Regions from separate parts of the Homo sapiens genome. Here region 1 is linked to region 2. Evidence: fine-mapped QTL for protein levels in blood plasma. A gene starts in region 2. The other region holds a variant in brackets. All regions are shown on one strand. Distances are between the middles of the regions.

Region 1 (2,918 bases), 20 kb after region 2:
CTATAGCAATTTTATATTTAATAATGAATTATTAAACATTTTTCAACACTACCTATTCAACTTCTATTCACTATCTTGCACTTCTATTCAACTCGAAGTCCTAGCTGGTACAGTAAGGCGAGAAAAAGAAATAAAGCCCTAAGTATTAGAAAGAAAGCTGTCATTATTTTCAGGTAACATGACTGTGCACATAGAAAATCCAAAATAATCTGTGGATCAACTATTTGAACTAATAAGTGAATTTAGCAAGATCTCTGGATATGAAGATAATATACAAAATCAATTGCATTTCTATAAAGAGCAACAAACAGAAAATGAAAGCTTAAAAGATACCATTTACAATAATTTCAAAACACACAAAAAGAAATGTAGTATCTTTATACTGAAAACTATAACTTTACTGAGAGAAATTTTAAAAGACCCAAATAAATGGAGGGATATTCCATGTTCATGGATTGGAAGACTCAATATTGTAAAGATGTCAATTGTCTCCAAATTGATCTACAGTTGCAATATTGTATCAGGTTTTTTCCTTGCAAAAACTGACAAGTTGACATCAAATTTAAAAGTTTCTGCACAGCAAAGGAAACAATCAACAAAACGAAAAGGCGACCTATGGGCTGGGGAAAAAAATTGCAACCACATATCCAATAAGGAATTATACTCAAAATTTGTATATTTTTAAATTTTTTTGTAGAGATGAGGTCTTGCCATCTTGCCCAGGCTGATCTTGAACTGCTGGGCTCAAGCAATCCTCCCACCTTGGCCTCCCAAAGTGCTGGGATTACAGGCGTGAGCCACCACACCTGGCCTCAAAATTTATAAAGAACTCTTACAACTCAATACCAGAAAAACAAATAACCCAATTAAAAAATGGGAAAAGCCGGCCGCCGCCCCGTCTGGGAAGTGAGGAGCGCCTCTGCCCGGCCGCCCACCGTCTGGGAACTGAGGAACACCTCTGCCCAGCTGCCGCCCCTGCCGCCCCAGGAGTGCCTCTGCCCAGCCGCCCACCCTCTGGCAAGTGAGGAGCGCCTCTGCCCGGCCGCTGCCCTGTCTGGGAAGTGAGGAGCGCCTCTGCCTGGCCCCCACATTGTCTGGGATGTGAGGAGCGCCTCTGCCCGGCCCCCGCCCTGTCTGGGAAGTGAGGAGGACCTCTGCCCAGCTGCCGCCCGTCTAGGATGTGAGGAGCGCCTCTGCCTGGCCGCTGCGCAACCTTCCAAGTGTGAAGTGACAGCCTTGTGTGTGATCTTTTCTGTCTTCCCCAAGTTTGCATTTTCAATATTAAAGTTTACTTTTTAATTAAAAGTTAAAAATAAATTAATTAATTAATTAATTAAAAATAAATAAAAAATGGGCAATGGACCTGAACAGTCATTTCTCCAAAAATAGAGGCCAGGTGTGGTAGCTCACACTTGTAATCCCAG[C/G]ACTTTGGGAGGCTGAGGCAGGAGGATCACTTGAGCCCAGAAGTTTGAGAAAAGCCTTGGCAACATAACAAGGCCCCTGTCTCTACAAAAAAGTTTTAAAAATATTAGCTGAGTGTGGTGCCATGCACCTGTAATCCCAGCTACTTGTGAGGCTGAGGCAGGAGGATCATGCATGCCCAGGAGTTTGACAGCAGCCTTGGCAACATAATAAGACCCTGTCTCTACAAAAAAGTTTTTAAAATATTAGCTGAGTGTGGTGCCACGCACCTGTAGACCCAGCTACTTGGGAGGCTGAGGCAGGAGGATCACGTGTTCCCAGGAGTTTGAGGCTTCAGTGAGCTATGATCATGCCACTGCACCCAGCCTGGGCAACAGAGTGAGATCCTGTCCCTAAAAGAATAAAATAAAAAATAAAATAAAATTTGAAAGTCCAATAGGCATATAAAAAGGTGCTCAACATCACTAACCATAAGGGAAATACAAATTAAAACCACTATATAAAACCTCACACTCATAAGGATGGCTATTATCAAAAAGACAAGAGATAACAAATGTTGGCAAGGGTGTAGAAGAAAGGGAACTCTAGTACATTGTTGGTGGGAATATAAATTGGTACAGCCATTATGAAAAACAGTATAGGAGTTCCTAAAGAAATAAAAAATACAGATGACCCTTGAACAACACGGAGTGGGGTAGAGGTGCCAACCCCCTACATAGTCGAAAATCCACACATAACTTTTGACTACTCAAAAATTTAACTACTAATAAACTATTGTTGACTGGAAGCCTTACCAATAACATACAGTTAATTAACACATATTTTGTATTTCATATGTATTATATACTGTATTATTACAATAAAGCAAACCAGATAAAAGAAAATAAGAAAATGTTATTAAAGGCTGGGTGTGGTGGCTCAAGCCTGTAATCCCAGAACTTTGGGAGGCCAAGGTGGGCAGATCATCTGAGGTCAGGAGTTCGAGAGCAGCCTGGCCAATATGACAAAACCCCATCTCTACTAAAAATACAACGGGCATGGTGGCAGATGCCTGTAATCCCAGCTACTCGGGAGGCTGAGGCTGGAGAATTGCTTGAACTGAGGAGGCGGAGGTTGCAGTGAGACGAGATCACGCCATTGCACTCCAGTCTGGGCAACAAGAGCAAAACTCTGTCTCAAAAAAAATAAAATAAAATGCTACTAAAAGTCATAAGGAAGAGCAAATATATTTACTATTCATTAAGTGGTAGTAGATCATCATAAAGGTCTTCATTCTCATTGTCTTCACATTGAGTAGTCTGAGGGGGAGGAAGAAGAGGGGTTGGTCTTGCTATCTCAGGGGTGGAGAGGTAGAAGAAAATTTGCATATAAGGACCCATGCAGTTCGAATCCATGTTGTTCAGGGTCAACTGTACAACATATGACCCAGCAATCCCTCTCCTGGGTATATACTCAAATGAGATGAAATCACCACCTCATGAAAATAGCTGCATTCT
Region 2 (2,918 bases):
GCTCATGGAAGTGGATCCCTTATGAATGGCTTGGTGCCCTCCCTGAAGCAATGAGTGAGTTCTCGCTCTATTAGTCAATGGGCGAGCTGGTTGTTAAAAAAAGCCTGGCACCTCCTCTCCTCTCTCTTGCTCCCTCACTTGCCCTGTGAGTTGCCTGCTTGCTCGCCCTTCGCCTTCCACCATGAGTGGAAGGTCCCTGAGGCCTCAACAGAAGCAGATGCTGGTGCCATGCTTCTTGTACAGCCTGCAGAACCAAATAAACCTCTTTTCTTTATAAAATACCAGTCTCAGTATTCCTTTGTGGCAATGCAAAATGGAATAACACACCCCCACTTTCTCCTGCTCAGCCACTTCTTGTATTTAGAGTGCTAAAGTCTTTTGCACAAAATTTTCTCAGTGTACCCTCCACAAAATAGGCCAGATTGGAAACCCCATACAAGATCCCTGATGCATCCGTTACCTAGCACAAGCCCTGACAAGCACGAAACAAAACCTGGTTTAGCGAATGGAGGGATGAATCCTGTTAGATAGCGATGGTCATCCTCATTTCACAGACGACGATACGGAGGGCCAGAGGGTGGAGCTGGTTAGTGCGTGGTAAAATTCCTCAAAATCAACTCGTCAGTGCATGCAAGCAGTATGTATGATCGGGATTCAAATCCCAACTATGCTGCTTCGGAAACTGAACGTCTGGGCTCATTTTTTTTTTTTTTTCTCCTAGCCACTAGACCACCAGGGACTGGGTTCATCCAGTCTTTGGTAAAAAAGGGGCTAAAATTTGCCTTGTAATTACATTAGATATGGTGGCCAATGCTCCTGGCATACAAGATTAGCTAACATTTACTGAGTGTCTACGCCGCGCCAGGTACTGTGTAACATAGGCGAGTTTAACACTGCTGAGTTTCACAGCAACCCTGTGGTCTACACCAAGGGACTCCTAGGGGCAGAGACGTTTCTTCGAGTCGCAGAACCGGGTGTGGGCCCCGCACCCAGACGTGGGCCATCGCCCTCCGCAGTCGGCTCCGTTAACCATCAAGCTCCCCCACCCCTCCAGGGCTGGGGACACTCCAGCCCCCATCAGGATGCTGGAGGCCGTCCGAAGCCCCACGAAGCCGACCAGCGCGCGTCGCCCCAGCAGCCCCCGCGCCCCTCCCGGGCCCGACGTCAGCACGCCCGCCGGCCCCGCCCCGGTGACGTTCCGGGGCCCGGCGCCCACCGCCCGCCGCTGTACCTGTGTGCACACCCTACCTGTACAATCGGTGGCTCGCGCTGAAGGAGATGCGGCGGGACACTTGTGCCTGGCAGCGACGGCCACCACCTTCCGTGCTCATCTTCCCGGCGCTGTCTGCGGTGCTCGGCCGGCACCTCCTCCCGCCGCGCGGCCGGTGCCTCCTCCCACCGCGGCTGCGCAGTGCGTGCCAGACGCGCCCCTAGGAAGTGCGTCTCCGCTTCCGCTCTGGCCAATCCCGGCCTCGGGAGACAGTTAAGGGTGTCTCTCGCTATCTGAATCTCTTCGGAGAGCAAGATTTGGGATACCTAAGCATACCCTGGAGTGGTCAGGGTGGGTGGGGACCCTGTGTCCTTGATCTGTTTGCCCCGCCTGAGGTCACGCCACGTAGTTAGGGCCCGTCTGGGCACACTTTGGGTCCTGAGTGACCTCTCTGAGCCTCCTCTCCCACTCTCTCCTGTAAAGCTCCAGTGACTGGTGACTCAATCGGATGAACCCCAGGGCCACAGTCCGCTTTATAGACCAAAAGGAGCAGGAATTGAGCCAGGCGGGCGTGGTGACGCACTCCTGTAGCCCCAGCTATTGAGAAGGAGAGGGATCACTTCAGCCCAGGAGTCCAACCTGGGCAATAGAGCAAGACCCTCGTTTCTCTTTTTCTTTTTTCTTTTTAATTATTATTATACTTTAAGTTCTAGGGTACATGTGCACAACGTGCAGGTTTGTTACATAGGTATTCATGTGTTATGTTGGTTTGCTGCACCCATCAACTCGTCATTTACATTAGGTATTTCTCCTAATGCTATCCCTCCCCCAGCCCCCTACTCCCTGACAGGCACCGGTGTGTGATGTTCCCCACCCTGTGTCCATGTGTTCTCATTGTTTGATTCCCACCTATGGGTGAGAACATGCAGTGTTTGGTTTTCTGTCCTTGTGATAGTTTGCTGAGAATGATGGTTTCCAGCTTCATCCATGTCCCTGCAAAGGACATGAATTCATCGTTTTTATGGCTGCATAATATTCCATGGTGTACATGTGCCACATTTTCTTAATCCAGTCTATCATTAATGGACATTTGGGTTGGTTCCAAGTCTTTGCAATTGTGAATAGTGCCACAATAAACATACAGGTGCATGTGTCTTTAAAGTAGCATGATTTATAATCCTTTGGGTATATACCCAGTAATGGGATGGCTGGGTCAAATGATATTTCTAGTTCTAGATCCTTGAGGAATCGTCACACTGTCTTCCACAATGGTTGAACTCATTTACACTCCCACCAACAGTGTAAAAGCATTCCTATTTCTCCACATCCTCTCCAACATCTGTTGTTTCCCAACTTTTTAATGATCGCCATTCTAACTGGTGTGAAATGGTATCTCATTGTGGTTTTGATTGGCATTTCTCTGATGGCCAGTGATGATGAGCATTTTTTCATGTGTCTGTTGGCTGCAGAAATGTCTTCTTTTGAGAAGTGTCTGTTCATATGCTTTGCCCACTTTTTGATGGGGTTGTTTGATTTTTTTTCTTATAAATTTGTTTAAGTTCTTTGTAGATTCTGGATATTAGCCCTTTGTCAGATGGGTAGATTGCAAAAATTTTCTCCCATTCTGTAGGTTGCCTGTTCACTCTGATGGTAGATTCTTTTGCCGTACAGAAGCTCTTTAGTTTAATTAGATCCCTTTTGTCTATTT

Which allele goes with the higher level. Positions count from the first base shown, and alleles are read on the strand shown. Strength reflects both the effect of a copy and how common the allele is.
As copies of C replace G in region 1, the plasma level of the protein whose gene starts at base 1,347 in region 2 goes up (moderate association).

Evidence for each region. PIP is the posterior inclusion probability: the model's chance that the variant is causal. Protein levels are from antibody-based Olink assays in UK Biobank. Linkage for the fine-mapping came from a reference panel and not from the study's own genotypes, which makes the PIPs less certain.
Region 1: its variant is fine-mapped to the plasma level of the PTS protein (UK Biobank, PIP above 0.99).

What each region holds. Positions count from the first base shown.
Region 1 is chr11:112,204,371-112,207,288 of GRCh38, reverse strand. All of the region lies in intron 8 of BCO2 (beta-carotene oxygenase 2), which reads right to left. Among named protein-coding and RNA genes, the nearest start is that of PTS, 21 kb to the left of the region's middle. The variant C/G (reference allele first, on the strand shown) is at 1,425.
Region 2 is chr11:112,224,857-112,227,774 of GRCh38, reverse strand. PTS (6-pyruvoyltetrahydropterin synthase) reads right to left here and starts at 1,347. Exons shown (of 6, transcript NM_000317.3): 1 at 1,249-1,347. The coding sequence starts at 1,331. RefSeq lists silencers at 415-709, 1,067-1,476.